Regions from separate parts of the Homo sapiens genome. Here region 1 is linked to region 2. The links come from fine-mapping of genetic effects on gene expression. A gene starts in region 2. The other region holds a variant in brackets. All regions are shown on one strand. Distances are between the middles of the regions. Region 1 overlaps DNAJC5 (DnaJ heat shock protein family (Hsp40) member C5). Region 2 holds the start of UCKL1 (uridine-cytidine kinase 1 like 1).

What was found. PIP is the estimated chance that this variant, and not a neighbour inherited with it, causes the effect.
Region 1: its variant is fine-mapped to the expression of UCKL1 in whole blood (INTERVAL, PIP above 0.99).

What each region holds. Positions count from the first base shown.
Region 1 is chr20:63,921,362-63,933,152 of GRCh38, reverse strand. DNAJC5 (DnaJ heat shock protein family (Hsp40) member C5) reads right to left here. Exons shown (of 5, transcript NM_025219.3): 2 at 4,701-4,818; 3 at 3,628-3,841; 4 at 2,131-2,302; 5 at 1-1,688. The coding sequence starts at 4,807. The coding sequence ends at 1,585. Among named protein-coding and RNA genes, the nearest start is that of MIR941-5, 7.4 kb to the right of the region's middle. RefSeq lists an enhancer at 416-917. The variant C/T (reference allele first, on the strand shown) is at 4,303.
Region 2 is chr20:63,950,740-63,960,003 of GRCh38, reverse strand. It overlaps UCKL1 (uridine-cytidine kinase 1 like 1), which reads left to right and starts at 3,588. Exons shown (of 15, transcript NM_017859.4): 1 at 3,588-3,744. The coding sequence starts at 3,632. It overlaps ZNF512B (zinc finger protein 512B), which reads left to right. Exons shown (of 17, transcript NM_020713.3): 17 at 1-3,300. The coding sequence ends at 116. UCKL1-AS1 (UCKL1 antisense RNA 1) reads right to left here and starts at 6,620. Exons shown (of 1, transcript NR_027287.2): 1 at 3,019-6,620. RefSeq lists enhancers at 1,629-2,514, 2,515-3,402, 3,432-3,491 and silencers at 2,822-3,031, 3,622-3,991, 4,092-4,141, 4,192-4,501.

The DNA.
Region 1 (11,791 bases), 28 kb after region 2:
ATCACACACAGCCTCCTCCTCAGCTTTATCTCTACAGGGACCTCTGCAACTCTGCAGCGGCCACCATGGACATTCTGCAGAAACCAGGCCCACTGGAGTCTGCAGCATGGCGCCAAAGGCAGGCCCAGCACATCCCATGAGCTACGGAGTGCGGGCAGCTCTGAGCCCTCAGCCAGCACAGGGACATCAGACCCGTTCCCCCTGCTCCCCTATGCAGGGCGCCACCCACAAGGTCTAGGACACGCAAGAGACTGACTTCCCATGGTCCACATGTGGATTCCGTAGTCTGGCTGCTGGCCTCCCAAGGGACCCACAATGGTCCACGTGTGGATTCCGTGGCCTGGCTGCCGGCCTCCCAGGGACCCACAATGGTCCACGTGTGGATTCTGTGGCCTGGCTGCCGGCCTCCCAGGGACCCAACCCTCCTGAGCCAGAGGGTCCCTCTGGTCCAGTCAGTCCTTCCTCCAGGGACCTAACGAATCTGGCTCTGCCTGAATCATCGATGACGGGGCAAAGGCGAGTGGGGCAGATGGGAGCTCTGGCAAACACAGGAGGAGGGGTCGTGGGAGAGCCCCCGTCCCCAGTAGCTGGGTGCTCACACATGCACAATCTACTCTCTGACTGTGGCTCATTGGGCTGGTCCTATCATCTGTGGTTCTAAAGGTCCAAAAAGGGCTATGGAAAGGACAGGTGTGCTGGAAGGAATGTGGAGAACGACCTCAAGATGGGAGGGGGGAGACTGGCCCCATCAATCCAGCTCAGAGCCCGGGAAAAGTGCAGGAACACAGACAAATAACCCCAACACGGCGAAGGACACACCTCCGAGAACCAGAACGGCAGCGTCCACACGACGAGACGACCAGGCGAGAAACACCGCGGAGGACACGGTGTCAACCTCGGAAGGGGCCTCCTATGCTTTCCACACCAAATTCTCCCACGGGAGAAACCCTGCCACAAGGCCCAGGAAACCACAGACCCCCAAGCCAACCATGCCCAGCACAGACACCAAGGAATGACAGTGACGCCGGTGACGCCAGGAGGACGCGGCCCCGCCTCTCTTCTGGCAGGTGAGATCAGAGTCCTACTGCAGCCTCAAGGCTGGGAGCACAGAGTGTGGACCAGACCCCGAGGCCAAGACGGTAACACAGCTCTGCCAGGCAGCACCTGCCTCCGGCCCCTCAAGCACAGGTAGGAAAGGGGCAGCCCCCCTTCTCCTCGCCCACCTGACCGGCTGCAGTCACCCCTCACTGGACCAACCTGACCGACAGCCCTGAGGCAGCTCCACCGTGCAGTTCACGCGGTCATGCCGCGGAATGTCCACAACACAGACATGGAACAGAACCCCATACATGCTATTAAAAAAGGGAAAAAAACAGAAGACCGTAGCTACACTGCTTTAAATACTGCATGCTACGCACTTCGTGGGTCAAGGGTCGACGCTGGGTGGGCGTGGAGGCAGGAGGGGCCCCAGCAAGGCCAGGGCAGGCAGGAGGCTGCCTTCCCATCTCTGTGACTACAGTTCATGATTCTAAGGTTGGCGTGGCCAGGCGCCGGCTCCTCCTCTGACCACAGCTCCTCCTGGATTTAGTTGAACCCGTCAGTGTGGTAGCTGGGGTGGGAGTCGGCTGTGAGCTGGGTGGTCTCGGTGGCGGATGCCGGCTGTATGACGATCGGCGTGTCTGTGGCCTCTGAAAAGCAAGCACACAGGGCACTGCACGAGGGCCACAGCCTGGCGCGCACCCAACGCTGGTCCTGTGGAGCGACTTTCGGGCACCTGGACAAACTCTCCACCGGGAGAGGCTACTCGCTGACCTCCACCCCACACGGCTTTCCTCCGTCGCCTTGGGTCACCGCCAGCCCTCGGCCCTCAGCCCCGCCCCAACTGCCTGCCGCCCTGCCCCGCCTCGCAGTCCCTGGGATCTACGGCTACCGCAGGTCACGGCGGGGACAGCTCTATGCGCCTGCTTTACCTCAGGGTCCACGTTCACACCTCAACAGTCCCAGCTGCCACCACAAACACTCGCGGCACAGTGTCAGTGCCCTCCTGTTTGACAAGACAGGTTGACACCATTCAGGGCCCATTCTGGCTCTGCCCCACACACACACACGGGCCCTGGGGCGGGCACTCACCCCTCTCGTCAGACTGCAGCTGTGCCTCCAGATCCTCGGGGGACACGTAGAACTCCGTCTCCTCGCCTTCAGGCGCCTTGGGCTTACACTTCCCGCAGCAGCAGTTGAAGCAGCAGCACAGACAGCAGCAGCAGTAGCAGCACGTGAGGAGGCCGCAGAAGACAAACAGGGCCTGGGGGGAGAAGAAGGTGGTGTTGCATGGCCTCCGAGGCCCCTGGAGAGGGAGGCGCAGGACTCCCAAATGCCCTCAGCAGAAGGCAGGGGGTGCGTTCCAGGTGGGGATACTGCCTTCCAGACAGGAAGCAGAAGGAAAGAACTGAAGAAGGGAGGAGGAGAGACAGAAAGAAACCCGCAGCTTAAAGAAAAGCAGCCTCCAAGACGGGCGTGGTGGCCCATGCCTGTCATCCCAGCACTCCAGGAGGCCGAGGCTGGCGGATCACGAGGTCAGGAGATCGAGACCATCCTGGCTAACACGGTGAAACCCTGTCTCTACTAAAAATACAAAAAATTAGCTGGACGTGGTGGCGGGCACCTGTAGTCCCAGCCACTCGGGAGGCAGAGGCAGGAGAATGGCGTGAACCCGGGAGGTGGAGCTTGCAGTGAGCCAAGATCGCGCCACTGCACTCCAGCCTGGGAAACAGAGCGAGACTCCGTCTCAAAAAAAAAACAAAGCAGCCTCCAGGCTGGGCACAGTGGTTCACGCCTCAACTCCTGCAGTTCTGGAGCTGAAGTGGGAGGATCACTTGAACCCAGGAATTCAAAGTTAAAGTGAGCCAGGATCTCACCACAGCACTCCAGTCTGGGCAACAGAGCGAGACTCTGTCTAACATTAACTAAATAAAAAGTACTTTATAAGGATTCTAGTGAGGAGGCCGACCAGTCAAAGCCAAATACAGGCTTCTCACAAATGCCATGCAGTGATTCCAACCCTCTGGCCTCATATATGACATTTGGAACAAAACGAGGAAACGAAGAAATGCGGATGTAACATCGAGGCTTATTTCCTCCTGTCTCACGAAGGACTGGGAGCCATTTACAGAAGAAACCCTGGCGGCTCCGCACGGCTCTTCCCTGGGACAATCTGTACGCTATGGCTTGTTCCAGGCAGGACACCAAGCCAGTGACAGAGCTTCGCCCATCACACAGGTGAGGAGAAAGGCTCCATATGCCCAGAAGCCTTTTCTCAGGAGTGTAGAGTTGCTGGCATCAACGCATGGGCTCTGCAATGCTGGGAACCCTGCAGGCGTGGAGTGACCCGGGTGCCCACATGGCAGGAGAGACTCGGGTGCCCGCACGGCAGGAGTGACTCGGGCGCCCGCACGGCAGGAGTGACTCGGGTGCCCGCACGGCAGGAGAGACTCGGGTGCCCGCACGGCAGGAGAGACTCGGGTGCCCGCACGGCAGGAGTGACTCGGGTGCCCGCACGGCAGGAGAGACTCGGGTGCCCGCACGGCAGGAGTGACTCGGGTGCCCGCACGGCAGGCAGCTCGCCCTCACCTTGGCCCACCAGCTGGACAGCACGAAGTAGGTGTTCACGTTCTCTTCCCCAAACTGCTCGGCCACGTAGAGACCCAGCGAGCCGTACTTGTCGTAGATGTTCCTTTTTGTGGCGTCCGTGAGGATGGCGTGCGCGTTGTTGATCTCCTTAAACTTGTCCGCGGCCTCCGGGTTGTCGGGGTTCTTGTCGGGGTGATATTTCAAGGCAAGCTTCCTGCAAACCAAAACCATGTCCTGGCTCTACCCTGGACTTTGTTCCACCCGCACCCGCCGCCGCGTCCATCCCACCCGCACGCACTGCCGGGTGCAGTGGAAGGCAGGTCCACCCAGGCCACCTCACTGTCCGACTCTCCAGGGCTGCAGGGGCCAGGGACAAAAGCAAGCTCCGCGGTTGTTTCAGGTAAACCTCCTCACCCTGACCCAGCCTCAGAGGAGGGAGCCCCAAGGGCTGTGAGTGCCACGGCACATCTAAGTTCAGCGGCACCAAGGCCAGCCCTGGTGTCCCAGCCGCTAACTGCACAAGTGCCAAGTGAACGGTAAGCACGGCGGGGCGTAATGATGGCACTTTAAGAAGTGTTTTATGAACTACACGATGCTAGCACACGAGAGGAGGACTATCTGAATTGTCTGGATTAGTGATGGTGTCTCTTACAGGTTACTCAATGAAACTGTACC[C/T]AAGAGTGCAGTTCTTCAAGCTCAATCAGAAGGCCACAACAGAGTGAGGGGTCTCTGTCATCACTGTGCTAAAACAAGGAGACCACAGGACCATGCCAGCGCTCTGCGGCTCCTGTGAGGCCTCAAACAGGTTCAGACCCTGACTCCCTATGGAACTGTGGACAGTGTGTCAGTTTCTACTAAGTGCTATTTTTTGTTGGCAAGAGAACATGAATACCATAACTTTAAGCTATAAGGAGCACATTACACATACAAAGGTGTTACCGAGCTGTGACCAGTTCAACGCTGAGTCGGCCAGGATAAAGTATGTGCAATGGTTCTTGGTAAAATGCAGACTAAACCACACGGGGCATGTGTGTCTTCCTGGGGGGATGTGGGGGCCACACTTGTCCACTTACCGATAGGACTTTTTAATGTCATCTGAGGTTGCGTTCTTGTCCAACCCAAGGACGTGGTACAATGACTCCCCAGAGGTAGACAGTGAGCGCTGTCTCTGGTCTGCCATGTTAGGCTATTCTAGAAGAAAAAATAAAAAGAAAGTATCACAAAGTATAGATGAAAGTACCAAGGGCAGAGCTGATGGACTTTATTCCATAAGACCGTTCAAAGCAAAAGAATCCAACACTGCCTTGTGGAGTTTGCCACGTGCACAGACAGACGCCATGGCATGGAGAAGTGTGAGACGGCAGAATACGGCCACCCCAAGAGATCCTGAAGAACTGCAGCTGTGTACTGTGGGCCGGCACAGGGGCTCACACCTGTAGTCCCAGCATTTTGGGAGGCTGAGGCGGGAGGACCGCTTGAGCCCAGGAGTTTGAGGCTGCAGTGAGCTATGATCACTCCACTGCACTGGAGCCCAGGAGACAGGGACCCTGTTCCTTAAAAACAAATATATAAATAAACAAAATAAATTAATTAATTAAAATAAACATGCATATTGTAATCCTTACAGCAACCTCTGCATAAAAAATGCAAAGAGGTATAAGCTAAAAAGTTACAAGAAAAATGAAAAAGTAACTCAACACAGGAAACAAATAGAAAATTAGTTGGAAGATCTAAATCCAAACATATCAACAATTAAATTCAATGTTAGTGGACAAAAAACTCCAATTAAAGTAAGGGACTGACAGAATGGATAAAAATGCAAGACCCAACTTTAATTTTAATACTTTCTCAGAAATCGACAGAACAGACCAAAAATCAGGAAAAACATCGATGTTCTGAACAACACTATCAACCACCATGACCTGATCTTCACAGAACACCCAACATCTAGAGAACACACAGTTTCTTTCTTTCTTTTTTGGGGGGGGGGACAGTTTTGCTCTTGTTGCCCAGGCTGGAGTGCAATGGCACGATCTCGGCTCACCACAACCTCCGCCTCCCCGGTTCAAGCAATGCTCCTGCCTCAGCCTCACACAGGAGTAGCTGGGATTACAGGCATGTGCCACCACACCCAGCTAATTTTGGTATTTTTAGTAGAGATGGGGTTTCTCCATGTTGGCCAGGCTGGTCTTGAATTCCCGACCTCAGGCTGAACTCCCGACCTCAGGTGATCCGCCTGCCTCAGCCTCCCACAGTGCTGGGGTTATAGGTGTGAGCCACAGCGCCTGGCAAATACACATTGTTTCTACATTGTTTCTAACTAATCAACCACCATGACGTGACAGTCACAGAACACCCAACATCTAGAGAACACACATTGTTTTTAACTGAATGCTGTACACTAAGACAAGCCACATGTTAGGGCTTCAAGCTGGTTTCAATAAACGTAATGGAATGAGGTCACACACAGCACTATCCCTGACTTAGCTACAAACTGGAAACCCAGGAGGAAGATACTCTTGATATTCAACAACACACCTCCGGCTAACATGTAGCTCAAAGAAGAAATCCCAGGGGAACTTAGAAAATGTTTTGAATTGAATAATAAATACAGTGTACATGACGGTTAATTTCATGTCTCCTTTGCTGCATCGTGGGGCACCCAGATGAAACATGACTTCAGGGTGTGCCTGGGAGGGTGTTTCTTGGTAAGAGCAGCACCTGAGCTGGGGGCTCCATGAAGCCAACTGCGCTGCCCTGTGCAGGTGAGTGTCGTCCCAGTCCACGGGGGTCCCGAATAGAAAGGGGTGGGAGGAGGAGTTGGCCTGGGTTTTCCTTCTCGCCTGCCAGCCTGAGCGGGGCCACGTGTCTCCTCCTGTCCTTGGACTGTTATTATCCCACTGCTTTCCTCAATCTTCAGCAAATGGCAGAGCATGAGATTCCGTCTCCATAATGACGTGGGCCAATTCCTCATAACAAATCTCCTTTAGAAAGAGACACAGATAATGGCAACGTTCCTCTGCAGAATGCTGACTAGTACAACACGTTAATCAAGGCCTAAGGCTCCGCCTCAGGAAGCTACAAAGTAACAGGATAAACCCAACATAAATGCAAGCAAGGAAATCATAAGGAACAGAAATCCATGAAAACAAACAGATAACTTCAACAAAGCCAAAAGAGTTGGTTCTTTGAGCAACATGAGGAAAGACATCACTACAGATCCTAGAGGCGTGAAAAGGATAAAATACGAACAACTTCATGCCAAGAAATTAGAAAAATTAGATGAAATGGACAAATATCTTGAAAATTACAATTTACCAAGACTGACATGAAATAGAAAATCTGAATAGGCCTGCATCTGTTAATAAAGTTATATTTGTAATAAAAAATCCCCAGAAGGCCAGGCGCCGTGGCTCACGCCTGTAATCCCAGCACTTTGGGAGGCCAAGGCGGGCAGATCACGAGATCAGGAGATTGAGACCATCCTGGCTAACACAGTGAAACCCCATCTCTAATAAAAATACAAAAAAATTAGCCGGAAGTGGTGGCAGGCACCTGTAGTCCCAGCTACTCGGGAGGCTGAGGCAGGAGAATGACGTTAACCCGGAAGGCGGAGCTTGCAGTGAGCAGAGATCGCACCACTGCACTCCAGCCTGGGCGACACAGCGAGACTCCGTCTCAAAAAAAAAAAAAAAAAAAACCAGATAAAATTCCAGGCCCAGATTTTTTTTTTAACCAAATATTTAGGAAATGACATCAATATGGGGTTTTGAGATAGTCTCGCTTTGTTGCCCAGGCTGGAGTGCGGTGACGCGATCTCGGTGATACTGGCAGGAGGCAGCTGAATGCCAGGCAGATGGGGCGGGTTCCCGGTGAAACCCACCTCCAAGCCAAAGACAGTTTAAAGCCTGACAGCTGAGCTACAAGTTAAATCCTCAGACTAGATGAAGAACTTGCCTTCCTGTTTGCCACACTTTCCTCTGATTGATCCCCATCCTTCACCTATTTTACACATACCTACCCTTTCCTAATTTTTATTTTTGAGGTGGAGTCTCGCTCTGTTTGCCCAGGCTGGAGTGCAGTGGTGTGACCTCAGTTCACTGCAATCTCTGCCTCCCGGGTTCAAGCGATTCTTCTGCTTCAGCCTCCCAAGTCACTGGGACTACAGGCACGCGAACCACGCCCAGGTAATTTTTGTATTTTTAGTAGAGATGGGGTTTCACCACATTGACCAGGATGGTCTTGAACTCCTGACCTTGTGATCCGTCTGCCTCAGCCTCCTAAAGTGCTGGGATTACAGGCGTGAGCCACCGTGCCCGGCCTCTTATAATTGGTTTTCTACACTGTCATGCCCACTTTAACCTTTTCTGCATACTCACAAACCCATCAGCAAGCTCTGCAAGCACTCCGCATCCTGAGTCCATAAAAAGCCCCAGACCCAGCCACACAGGCGGACTTTCCTGCCTTCAGGTAGGGGAACCACCCCTGCATCCCCTGGTCCGCTGAAAGCTGTTTCACTGCTCAATAAAGTTCTTCTCCGCCCTCCTCACCCTTCAATGTCCAGTGTATCCTTGATCTTGAGTGCGGTACATGAGCTCGGGAATGGCCGAACACAGTACAAGCTATAACACAGGTGAGTTGGGGCACGCCAGTGTGGCCAAGCAGGGCCCAGGTGGGGCATCACTGGCCAGGGGTCCCCGGCTTGCAAAGTGACCGAGAAGAAAAATCCTAAGTCATCAACTCACTGCAACCTCCGCCTCCCAGGCTCAACCCATTCCCATGCCGCAGGCACGGGACTACAGGCACGCACCACTGCACCCAGCTAATTTTTGTATTTTTAGAGACAGGGTTTTGCCATGTTGTCCAGGCTGGTCACGGACTCCTGGCCTCAGTCAATCCCCCCCTCGGCCTCCCAAAGTGCTGCGATTACAGGCATGAGCCACCGTGCCCGGTTTTTTGTTTTTGTTTTTAAGTTAAATAGGCATGGTGGCTCATGTCTGTGGTCCTAGTGACACAGGAGGTTGAGATAAGAGGATGGCTGAGCCCAGAAGCTCGAGGCTGCAGTGAGCCATGATCGTGCCACCACACTGTAGCCTGGGTGACACAGTGAGACCTTGTTTCAAAAAAAGAAAAAGAAATAACAAGACCTATGAAATCTGTACGTTGAAAACCACAAATTGCTAAGATACTAAAGATAAGAAAAAGATTCCTCATGTTCACGGATTAGAAGCCTCGATATAAAGAAGTCAGTTCTCCCCAAACTGATCTGTAGACTTGACAGAAGCCTAACCCTAATCCAAGAGGATTTTTTTTTGCAGAAACTGATACTGATTTTTTTAAATGTATAAGGAAATGTAGCAGACAGATTAGCCACAGCAACATTAATAAAAAGAACAAAAGTTAGAGAATTTACCCTATTGATTTCAAGACATATACTATATATCTACAGTAATCAAGACCATCTGGTACTGAGGAAAAGACACACACACAACAGCAGAATCGAGTTCAGATAGATTCATACTGAAAGGCACAGAAGGGGAGAAAATATTTACATTATGTACGTATAAAAAACAATTCACAAGTGGAATAAAGAACTCTTACACAAGTCAATTACTAAGGCAAAAAACTCCATTTTTAAAAACGGCCAGGTCGTTCTGGCTCAAGAGCGCAGAATGACTTGGAGGCAGTGAGAGTGTAGGAACGGATGGACTTGGCAGATTTTCTTTTCATTCTTACCATTTCAGGATAGAATCCAAAATCACTCAACACATAAAGCTGAGAAAATGTTAACTCATTCTTTCTTTTCCCCGCCTGACTTTATTGCCCGGGCTGGAGTGCAGTGGTCACATTTCAGCTCACTGCAACCTTGACCTCCTGGGCTCAGCTGATCCCCCCACCTCAGCCTCCTGAGTAGCTGGGACTACAGGTGTGCAATACCACGCCCAGCTATTTTTTAAAATTTTTATAGAGTCAGGATCTTGTTGGTCTCAAACTCCCAGACTCAAGCAATCCGCCTGCTACAGCCTCCCAAAGTGCTGGGATCACAGGTGTGAGCCACCCTACCCAGCCTAATTTTTTTTTTTAGAAACAAGGTTTTTCTCTGTTGCCCAGGCTGGAGTGCAGTGGTGCGATCTTGGCTCACTGCAGCCTTGAAATCCTGGACTCAAGAAAGCCTCCCTTCTCAGCATCCCAAGCAGCTAAGACTACAGGAATGTGCCACCATGCCCAGCTAACTTTAAAATTTTCTATAGAGACACGGTCTGGCTTTGTTGCCCAGGCTGGTCTCAAGTGATCCTCCTGCCTCAGCCTCCCAAAGTGCCAGGATTATAGGTGCAAGCCACTGCTCCTCACCAAAATGTGACTTATTCTTTTTTTTTTCTTTTTTGAGACAGAGTCTCACTCTGTTGCCCAGGCTGGAGTGCAGTGGTGCAATCTCAGCTCACTGCAACCTCCACCTTCCAGGCTCAAGCGATTCTCCTGCCGTAGCCTCCTGAATAGCTGGGACTACAGGCACGTACCACCACGCCTGGCTAATTTTTGTATTTTTAGTAGAGATTGGGTTTTGCCATGTTGGCTAGGCTGGTCTGGAACTCCTGACCTCAGGTGAGCCACCCGCCTCAGCCTCCCAAAGTGCTGGGGATTACAGGCATGAGCCACCATGTCCGGCTAAAACCTAGATTTTTAGAAAGGAATGAAGACCACTGGAAATGGTAAATACCTAGGTAAAACACCATTTTTTGCTTTTTTGTTTGTTTGGAGACAGGGTCTTGCTCTGTCACCCAGGCTGGAATGCAGTGGTGTGATAAGGGATCATGGCAGCCTCAACCTCTCAGACTCAAGTGATCCTCCCAACACAGCCTCCTGAATAGGTGGGACTACAGGCGTGAGCCACCATGCCAGCTAAGTTTTTAGAAATTTTTTGCAGAGACGGGGTCTATGTTGCTCAGGCTGATCTTGAATTCCTTGGCTCAAGTGATCCTCCTGCCTTGGGTCATGGTCACCAAAGTGCCGAGATCACAGGAGCCAACCCTTTCTGATGTCTATTTTTTTTTTTTTTTTGAGACAGAGTCTCACTCTGTCACCCAAACTGGATGGAGTGCAATGGTGCAATCTTGGCTCCATGCACCCTCCACCACCCAGGTTCAAGCGATTCTCCTGCCTCAGCCTGCCAAGTGGCTGGGATTACAGGCGCGCGCCACCACACCCAGCTAATTTTTTTGTATTTTTAGTACAGATGGGCTTCACCATGTTGGCCAGGATAGTCTTGAACTCCTGACCTCAGGTGACCCGCCTGCCTCGGCCTCTCGAAGTGCTGGGATTACAGGCGTGAGCCACCAACCTGGACTGCCTATTTCCTTGGGGTAATGAGTCCGGGAGTTTGCCACCTGATGTTTGAAGTAGCACCTCACAACTTCATTCTTCCTAAACTTGGTTTAAATTTCAAGGGGGCCGGGAGTGGTGGCTCACGCCTGTAATTCCAGCACTTTGGGAGGCTGAGGTGGTTGAATCACCTGAGATCAAGAGTTTGAGACCAGCCTGGCCAACGTGGTGAAACCTCATCTCTACTACAAATACAAAAATTAGCTGGGTGTGACGGTGTGCATCTGTAATCCCAGCTAGTTGGGAGGCTGAGGCAGGAGGATGGCTTGAACCCGGGAGGAGGAGGTTGCAGTGAACTGAAATTGCACCACTGGACGTCAGCCTGGGTGACAGAGTGAGACCCTGTCTCCAAAAAAAAAACTTTCAAGGGGATCCCATGTCAACAGAAAGGTTATAACACAGTTAAAGGAGAGGCCTGGTGTGCAGCCGCAGCTACACGAGCAGCACGTGCTGCAACCTGCTGCAAGTGACGAGCTGCCATCAGCGTTATTCGCAGTCTTCATTTCTGGAGGGCTAAGTTCCAACCTTCAGTCAGAACTCTTTTTTTTTTTTTTTGAGACGGAGTCTCGCTCTGTCTCCCAGGCTGGAGTGCAGTGGCACTATCTCGGCTTGCTGCAAGCTCCGCCTCCCGGGTTCACGCCATTCTTCTGCCTCAGCCTCCTGAGTAGCTGGGACTACAGGCACCCGCCACCACGCCCGGCTAATTTTTTGCAGTTTTAGTAGAGACGGGGTTTCACCGTGTTAGCCAGGATGGTCTTGATCACCACACCTCGTGATCCACCAG
Region 2 (9,264 bases):
AGCCTGTGGCCAAGCTGCCCCCGCGCCGGGACGACTGGCCTCCAGGATGCAGAGACAAGGGGGCCCGGGGCTCCACCGGCCGGAAGGTGGGAGTCAGCAAGGCGCCTGAAAAGTGAGCATGGTGCGTGGGGCCTGGCCCCCATGCAGCCGCCACACCGCCCTCTGTTCAAGGCAGGGCCAGCTCCGGGACCTCTGTCCTCCAGTTCTCCATCCCCCACCCCCGCCTCTTCATCCGTCCAGTGGGGCAGCCAGCCACTCTCCCTTCCCTGAAGGTGGCCCTTCCCCTGTTAAGGCTGCCACAGGGCACACCTGGGTTGGGGCTCCCCAAGGTGTGCCCAGCAGAAGTGCAATAGCCAGGAGGGTTGCCCCTCCTCATGGGAATGTGTCTGGGGTCTTGGTGCCACAGGGGCTGCAGCGCAGAGTAGGCAGATGGCCTTTGGCCCCCCGGCTCCGCTTCCTCAGGCCCTGCCGGGTCCCTTCCCTGGCTACCCCAAGGCTCAGGCATCCCTGGTGACCTGTGGTTCTGGGCTGGTGAGGGCACCTGAGCAACCTGGCACGGGCAGCCACCATCCTGGCCTCACCTCCACCCAACACTGGAACTCCAGCACCCCCAGCTACCTCCCAGGACAGACCCCTGTCTGACCACTGCCATGCTGACCTGACAGGCTCCGGCCTGCCCTTGGCCACCCACTTGGTCCCCTTGCTTCTGTTTTCTACCTCTCCAGGCCTGCCCACTACCCCCACCCCTGCTCCTCCTTTGTCAGTGCGATCCCTGCTGTGCTCAGGCCCTGCCCCCCAGGCCTGTCTGTAATTCTCCCAGCTTGGGGCAAGGGAGGGGTTTTGCTTCTTGTACCTACAGGGCAGCAGAAGCTTGATGCCCTTCAACACAGCTGCCAGCCCTGGGGGTGTGGGGCCCCTGGAGTGTGCTCTCCTCCAGTGTTCAGCCTTCTGGCACTGCAGGCCTAGGTTGGAGCAGCCTCGTGGAGTAGGGACGGACTAGTTCGGGCCCTGGGGTCTTGCTGGGGCCCATAGGCATGTGGGGCAGGAAGCTGGGCAGAGCTGGCCTGGCTCTGAGTGGCCACTGGGGGAAAGGCAGCCTTCTGTCTGCCAATCTGGGTAGGCCCAGTGGCCAAGCTCTCATGGGAGCCCCCTCCCCACTTTTTTTTTTAACCTGCCCCCATTGTTTCTGGTTGTGTGGTCATTTGATATGGGAACTGAAGGCCAGCCAGGGGAGGGGCTTGGCCAAAGTCACAGCAGGTTGATGGCAGCTCCAGAGCTGTCTTTGCCCCTTTGTGGCCCTGAGGACGGCTGGGTCTATAGGTAGGGCAGGGGTCAGGCAGGGAGTCCAGGGTGCCTGGAAGAGGTGGCCACAGCCTGTGGCTCCCTCCCTGGGGTCCTGCCTTCCAACCACGGCATTGCAGGGAGGATGAGGCTCAGAGGGGGTAGGTTTGGAGGGAGGCCATTTTCCAGGGTGGGTGGGAGTGGGCTGAGGGCTCGGCCCCACTGACCCTGGACGATGAGAATTTTGATGTTTGCCCGTGTGCGTGTGTCTCCTGGGTGTAGTGGATGCCAGTCTTGTTGCTGTGACAAGTAACAACCTTTTTTTTAAATTGTTTTTTATACAAACACTCGCAATCCGACATTTGGTGCTAAGGGTTTCCTGGTGCAGACGGTGGGCCTGGGGGCTGGGCTGGACCAGGGCGTGGGTCTCTGGGGTTGGGGTCCCTTGCTGCTCAGGGAGGCAGTACTGACTGGGCACTGCCTCTGCCCCCAGCACCCACCCTCCCCCATTCCCCAGGGAGAAGGGGCCCCACTGGGCTTGGCCTGCAGTAGTAGGGAGACAAGTTCCAGGAGCACTTTGGGGACTGGGGTTGCAGAACACTTCCTGTCTCTGGCTTCATCCTTGGGCCAGAAGGCTCCAACCCTCAGCAGCCCTTGCCAGATGTGCCAGGGAGTGGGTGTGGAGACCCGGACTCCCCCCACCCACGCACACCTCGGCCTGATGAGAGGATGGAGGCTGGGGCAGAGATGGGCGTGACCCAGCGTCAGAGGGTCGGGGGAGGCATTCCTTCCTGTGTCCCAGAGCTTCACTGGTGGAGCTGGAGGAGCCGGAGGTGGAGGGTGGGGTCTGGCAGCTGCTGCTGGGGCAGCCTCATGAGGGGAGGGGAGGGGAGGGGAGGGGAGCAGGCACTGGGCGGGGGCCTAGGTGCACTTTGTCCTTGCCACCAATGGCGGGAGGAGGGTGGACCTGAACACCTGCAGGGTGTGGTGCCTGCCCCAGCCTCTCAGGTACTTGGCCCTTGGGGAGAAGAGAAGAGGGTCTGGTTTTTGCTGGGGGTGAGTTTCCGGGACACTCCCAAAGCCCACAGATAATCCCTGGTGTGGGAAGAGGAGTCCTGGATACCTTGATGTTTAGCACTTTAACCCCCTTTGTCTTTAAGGTAGGCGTGGGGGCTACTGCCAGAAGTGGCTGTTGGGTCTGACCCCCTCCTTTCTGCCCTCCCTCTGCCACATGCTGGTCCGCAGAGCCCTCCTCCCAAGGGGTGGGGCCCTGGGTGGAGCTCAGCAGGGTCTGCCCACTCCCTACGCTGGCCCACATAGGCCTCCAGGAGCCCTCAGTGAGAGGGACCAGCATAGCTGACCCCCAGAGTGTGGTGGGCGCCGGCCCTGCCCGAGGCCCAGTCGGGGCCCTTTCTGCAGATCTACCTCTGGCTCAGCGCACGCCCCCTGCCCTGAGAACAGGAAAGGGCCCGGAAGGGCTGACTCACCGGGCCGACGCTCACACGAAAATGGGATGCACTTTATTTGCTGGTGCAAAGGCAGGTGAGGGTGCCTCCTGTGTGACCGTTGGCCCTCCTGCCTGGTGGCGCTGAAGGGAAGGAGCCAGTGAGCCTGACCCCGGGAGGGGCCGTCCCCGTGTGCCGCGTTTGGCGGGGCCCCAGGCGGCTCCCCCAGGCCCGGGTCTGGGGCCCCAGGCTTTCCCCTGCCTCGCGGCCGGGCGTCCCGTGCTTTGGGTTTCTTGGTTTGGGTTTTTTAATGCCAGTTCTCAGTACATAAGTGCATTTTGAAAGAGGTTCCAGCTATCACTTGTAACCATATATATATACATATATATTCTATCTACAAAGTGTTTATTTGCGAGATGTTTCAACGGTGAGTTCGGGCCCCGCCCGCCTTGTGACCATCTGTCCCCGGTCCTCGTCCCCGCCCCGCGCCCTGGTCCCGAGTGGCGTGGGGACGGGCCATCACTGTATGTATTAAAATGACTGTATCAAATAAATGTTTATTGATTTTTTTCCAGGGTTTTTGTGCGGCTCAGTTTGTGGTGAAAAACAGGGGGCGGGGCCCTCCAGGCACGTGGCGGAGGCTGCCGAACTACGGGTCCCCCATGCCCGCCGCGCGGCCTTGTGGGGCTTGTAGTCCGCGACGCGCGGCCTTGTGGGGCTTGTAGTCCGCGACGCGCGGCCTTGTGGGGCTTGTAGTCCGCGACGCGCGGCCTTGTGGGGCTTGTAGTCCGCGACGCGCGGCCTTGTGGGGCTTGTAGTCCGCGGTGGGCAAGAGAGGGACCCGCCAGCTCCCGGCGGCCCATGCGCGCCGCCCGGCCAGGCCCGCAAAGAGGCCTCCGAGCGCCATGGCTGCGCCCCCGGCCCGCGCGGACGCTGATCCTTCGCCCACGTCGCCACCTACGGCCCGAGACACACCAGGCCGGCAGGCTGAGAAAAGCGAGACCGCGTGCGAGGACCGGTAGGCGTGGGCCTCGCCTCCACTCCACTGGCGAGCGGGAAGGGGCTGCAGATCCGGCCGAGCTGGGCGGGTGGTCCGTCCCCGCCGCGAGCCCAAGTCCCCCACTCCCGGAGGCCAGGCGGCGGCGCCCCGTTCTCCCACGTGCCGGGTGGAACCCCGCGGGCTTGAAGCGGCCGGGAGGACGGACCTGGCCCAAGCCGGCAGGCTCCTCGGGGCTCGGGGAAGGAGTCCGGGTGCGCACCCCCAGCGTTGACCTTGGTCTCTGCCCCCGGTGGGTGGGGCCCTCGGCCTCGAGCGCCCGGCGGGCTGTGTGCCTGCTCGACTGTGCGAGTTGGTCTATGTTGTCGGCTCGGGGTGTGGCCCTGCCCGACCCGCGAGGCCAGGGCTTAGGATTTGGAGGTGCTGCGGCGCACGGTGCCTTCGGATTGCCTCGCACGCGCGTGGCACCTTCGAGCCTCTGCGGGGGCTTTGCAAGAGCATGAAGTGGGGAAGTTGTGGGGGTGCAGCGGGAGGAACCCGCCCCCACCCCGGTTCGTCACCCCGAGTGGCCCCTCTGGGAGCCGGGCCCTGCGCGGCGCCTTTGGGGCCGTGGCCGTCAGGGGGCGGTGGCCACGCAGTGCCCGGGGCTGCAAGAGGGCGCTCTGGGCGCTGCCCCTCCCTTCCGGGTCTGAAGTGTCCCTTGGGGAGCCCGCGGGGTCCCCAGGAAGGGGTTGTTCCCACTCAGGCGCCTCTTGCCTGGGTTCAGGCTGTGACTCCTGTCAGAAACGCTGTGAGCCAGGACTCCCTCAGAGATGGGCTGCGCTGGATGCCGCAGGGGGAAGGGTGTCCCGGCACAGGGTCGCTCCTCTCCAGGAGCTGCTGAGCAGAAAGAGCTTTCCCCTGGCCCTGCGTCCCTTCAGGTCCACACCCTCCCAGTGGGCAGTGACTAGGAACTTTGCATGGCTGGAGTCTAATAGGGCCTGAGTCTGTTCCTCTGCTGGTTCCAAAGAGGCGTTGTTTTTTTGTTTTGAGATGGAGTCTCACTCTGTCGCCCAGGCTGGAGTGCAGTGGCTCGATCTCGGCTCACTGCAACCTCCCTTTCCCGAGCTCAGTTCAAGCAATTCTCCTGCCTCAGCCTCCCGAGTAGCTGGAATTACAGGTGTGCGCCACCACGCCCGGCTAATTTTTTTTTGTATTTTTAGTAGAGAGGTATTTTGTCAGGTTGTCCAGGCTGGTCTCCAACTCCTGACCTCAGGTGATCTGCCCGCCTCGGCCTCCGTGGGATTACAGGCGTGAGCCACCGCGCCCAGCCACCAAAGAGGTTTTGATTTAACCCGAGGTGGGGCAGGCCAACGCTAGATAAGCACTGAGAGCTCTTGAGAAAGGCACTCCTGGATGACACAGGTTGGTGGCAGCAGCCATCTGGGCCTGCCCTGTGCACAGACGGTGGGCTGGGCACGGTGGCCCTCGCTGTGTCCCACGAGGCAGAGACTGTTGTTATCTTTCTTTGGTGTGGTTACCAAGGGACAGGAGGGAAGCTCCAGGCAGTGAGGATAGATTGCAGCACCCTTCTCCAGGGGCCCCGGTCTGCCCTGGAACTGCCTCTTGTCTTAGGCACATTTCTTGCACTTTGTGTCCTGATGCTTGTGCCATCGAGGACTTCCTCTGCCCCAGCCTAGGGCTTTTCTCACTGTTCCCCGAGCGTGTCCCCAACGTTCCTGCGTCTGCCCCTCTTCAACCTCTGCTGCTGCCCTTAGTGTTCCAGAGCAGGCTCCAGCTTGGAGGTCTGTGCACGGGTGGAGGTCTGTCCCCAGGGCTGGGGTTCCTCCACCACCGTTCCAGTGCCTCCTGCCACATCCTCCCGGCAATCAGTCTGTCCATCTTGCCTGTTGTTTATTGTCTGCTTGCCACTCGTGACTCTGTCCTGGGCACCTGCCCCCAGAGCTGGCCCGTGCTGGTGCAGGAACAGGTCCTTTGTGGTGTTAGCAGTGACTCCTGGCTGCGGTTGAGATGGAGTCTGGGGCTGTGGAAGTGGGGAGCAGAGGGAGGCTGCCCATGATCTGTGCAGGGCAGGTCCTGCTGAGGGAAGGTTTCCTGAGTGGTGGGGTGGGCCAGGGCAAGCCCCCAACCCCCAGTGCTCATCCAGCCTGAGAAAGCAGCCCTAATGACTCTCCCTGAGTCAGTCCGGCACCAGTGGGGTCAGGCCTGCATTGGCTCCTGTGGGCTAGCTCCTCCCTGCTCCCTCCTCCCCCCAGCCTCATTTTAGTTATCCAGCAAACTTCCCTTAAACCTGACCTGTCAGGAGGTGCCGTGCTACAGGCACCCAGCAGGAAGGTCCGTGGGCGATGGTGACCCCAGGGGTGGTAGAACAGGCCTGAACCACAGCAAGGGAGTGCCCGAGCCTTCCTTTCTCCCTGTGTGCTCTCTCCCGTGGCTGTTTCCTCAGTGTCGGTTTCACATGCCCTGCGCTCCCTGCTGCTGGACGTTTGCTTCTGGTTTCCTTGGCATTGTGGATGGTTCGTGAGGGGCAGCCCTGCCTCCAGGTCTCCACACATGCCTGTGCTTATTTTTCTTCCTTTCTTTTTTTTTTGGAGATAGAGTCCTGGGCTGGAGTGCAATGGCACCATCTCGGCTCACTGCAACCTCCGCCTCCCGGGTTCAAGCAGTTCTCCTGCCTCAGCCTCCCGAGTAGCTGGGACTACAGGCGCCCGCCACCACGCCCAGCTAATTTTTTGTATTTTTAGTAGAGACGGGGTTTCACCATGTTGGCCAGGCTGGTCTTGAACTCCTGACCTCAGATGATCTGCCCGCTCAGCCTCTGAAAGTGCTGGGATTACAGGCGTGAGCCACTGCACCCGGCTGCCTGTGTGTATTTCTTTTGTTTTGTTTTGTTTTGTTTTTGAGATGGAGTTTTGCTCTTGTTGCCCAGGCTGGATTGCAGTGGCGCAATCTCAGCTCACAGCAACCTCTGCCTCCCGGGTTCAAGCAATTCTCCTGCCTCAGCCTCCCAAGTAGCTGGGATTACAGGCATGTGCCACTACGCCCGGCTAATTTTGTGTTTTTAGTAGAGACAGGGTTTCTCCATGTTGGTCAGGCTGGTCTCAAACGCCCAACCTCAGGTGATCCACCTGCCTTGGCCTCCCAAAGTGCTGGGATTACAGGCATGTGCCACCGTGCCCAGCTAATTTTGTATTTCTAGTAGAGATAAGGTTTCTCCACGTTGAGGCTGGTCTCAAACTCCGACCTTGGGTGATCCGCCCGCCTCGGCCTCCCACAGTGCTGGGATGACAGGCGTGAGCCACCGCGCCCGGCCACCTGTGCCTATTTCTTGACGATGACATCAGTTATGGGGCCTGATCACCGATGAGGCATCTGCCTTGGACTTTATGAGCTGACCCACCTGTAATGAACCTGCTGTTAGTCCTTGAGGAGGAAACTGAGGCAAGCTGTGGCTCCGTGGAGGGGACTGAGCCACATTCGACTGTGCTGTGGCCCAGAGTAGGATGGCTGAAGGTGAGGGAAGGGCAAGGGGTGCCCTGAAGTGACTGAGGCAGCCTCCAGCACCACGGGCCTCAGACAGCCCCACCTGCAAGGAGGAAGCCTTAGGCAGAAGGTGCTCTGGGCAGCGCTTACCCCAGCGCGGCATCAGCACCTGTGGGTGGCGTGGGAATGGGAGTTCTCTGGACCGGCCCAGCTCAGGAAGTTAGAACCTGGGAGGAACACCAGTGAATAGGACCAGGGCAGGCTACCCCTCCCCACCGTGAGCGGCCCCTCCCTGCCGTGGGCTGCTGTGGCCGAGAGCAGCCCCGTGGAGGGGCATGTTGGGGACCACGTGGCCTGCAGCGAGGCGACGTGATTCCAGGGTGGGGCCTGGTGGTTCCATTCACAGCTGCGTGCCTGGGCTCCTCCGTCCCTCGCCTGGCCAGCACAGTGCTGGCTTCCCCAGGCCTGTAGCCTTGCCTCTTGGCCGGCTAGGGCAGCCAGGGTGCATGCCCATGCCAGGCAAGACCAGTCTGCGTCCACTCTGCTGTTCAGACAGCCCAGCCAGTGGCATGGCCCCCAGGAGCCCGGACTCTGCGCCCCTGCTCAGGACAGCCTCCGCCTCCCCGACCCTGGGCTGTCTCCTGCCCACTTCCCAAGTGAGGGATGTAGCCGCCTCCTGGGAGCAGAATGAGGAGAGGAAGCACCTGTGGACACAGACAGATGGGCCGGTCCTGCCTCTGAGGCAGCTCCCAGGAGTGGCCTACTATTGAGGAGTATGACCTCCATGTGGAGTCTTCCCTTTTCCCTGAGCTTCTGGCAGCCCCTGCCTCAGTACTAGAAGCTCCAAGAGAAACCCATGGTAGGAGGAAGCTGACACCCATGGCTGACCTGTCTGCCCCTGGGAGAGAGCTTAGGGCTGCCAGGACTTCTCTGTGCACATCCTTGACTGACTCTGCGGAGGGTGGGGCCGAAACCCTGTTTCTGTGGGCGGGGAGGTGGCTGTGTCCCCTGTGCCCTGCTGAGCCCTGGGCGGGGAGGTGGCTGTGTCCCCTGTGCCCTGCTGAGCCCTGGGCGGGGAGGTGGCTGTGTCCCCTGTGCCCTGCTGAGCCCTGGGCGGGGAGGTGGCTGTGTCCCCTGTGCTCTGCTGAGCCCTGGGTGGTGAGCCCTGGGTGGCTGCAGGTCCCTGCAGGATCCCCCGTGAGTGGGGGTAGGGCAAGGCAGTTATTTTCAGATGGTGCCAGAGGGTGGAGTTTCAGATTTGTTTATGCCTGTCGGAAGCACTCTGGGGCTAGGGATGGGGTGCCCAGCTCAGCACTGACGTTCAGGACACCTGGCCAAGAGGCGCCTCAGATATCCTTGTCCTGCTGCGGGGGGTTCACTCTGTAGCCCCAGGCAGGCCGGGGTACTGTAGCTTTTTCCAGGGGATCCAGGAGGGGTGCAGGCACACGGCGCACAGTGGTCCTCCGCAGGCCTGCGGTCCTAGGCTGGCCGAATGTGCCAGCCCACACACAGGAGGGGGCAGTTCACACCGAGGGCTGGCCCGAGGATTGTCAGGGCCACACCAGGCAAAGCCAGCGCTATTAATATCAGGCATACACAAGCCCCCAGCTGGGTGATCCTCTTATGCCTGTGGCCTTGGCCTCTGAGGACGGCAGTGAGTGCTGTTCCCTCAGTACGGTGGAGGCTTCAAGGGCCTCCTAGCTGCTGTGCCTCTGCTGACATTTGGCAGGCAGCTTCTGCCAGCCAAGGGTCTCACCCCAGCCACCCGGCTCTGCACCCACTGTGCTGCCCACAGGAGTGGTCCTGCCCATGGAAGGGCCAGTTCAGGTGGCCGGAGCTCCTGAGCTGCCCTAGGGGACTGCTGTGGGTCTGAGGTGGTGATGTCCCCCACGGCTGCCTGCGCCTGAGCCCCCACGCATCCACCCCTGGGGCCACTCTGCTGTTCAGGAGCACCCACCCGTGTCCTCGACCATGAGCAGCCCCCCAGCTTACCCTGGCATCAGGATCTCAGGGTGCCGGGCCCTTGGAGCAGAAGGCAGGTGAGTCTCGACTGGAGGT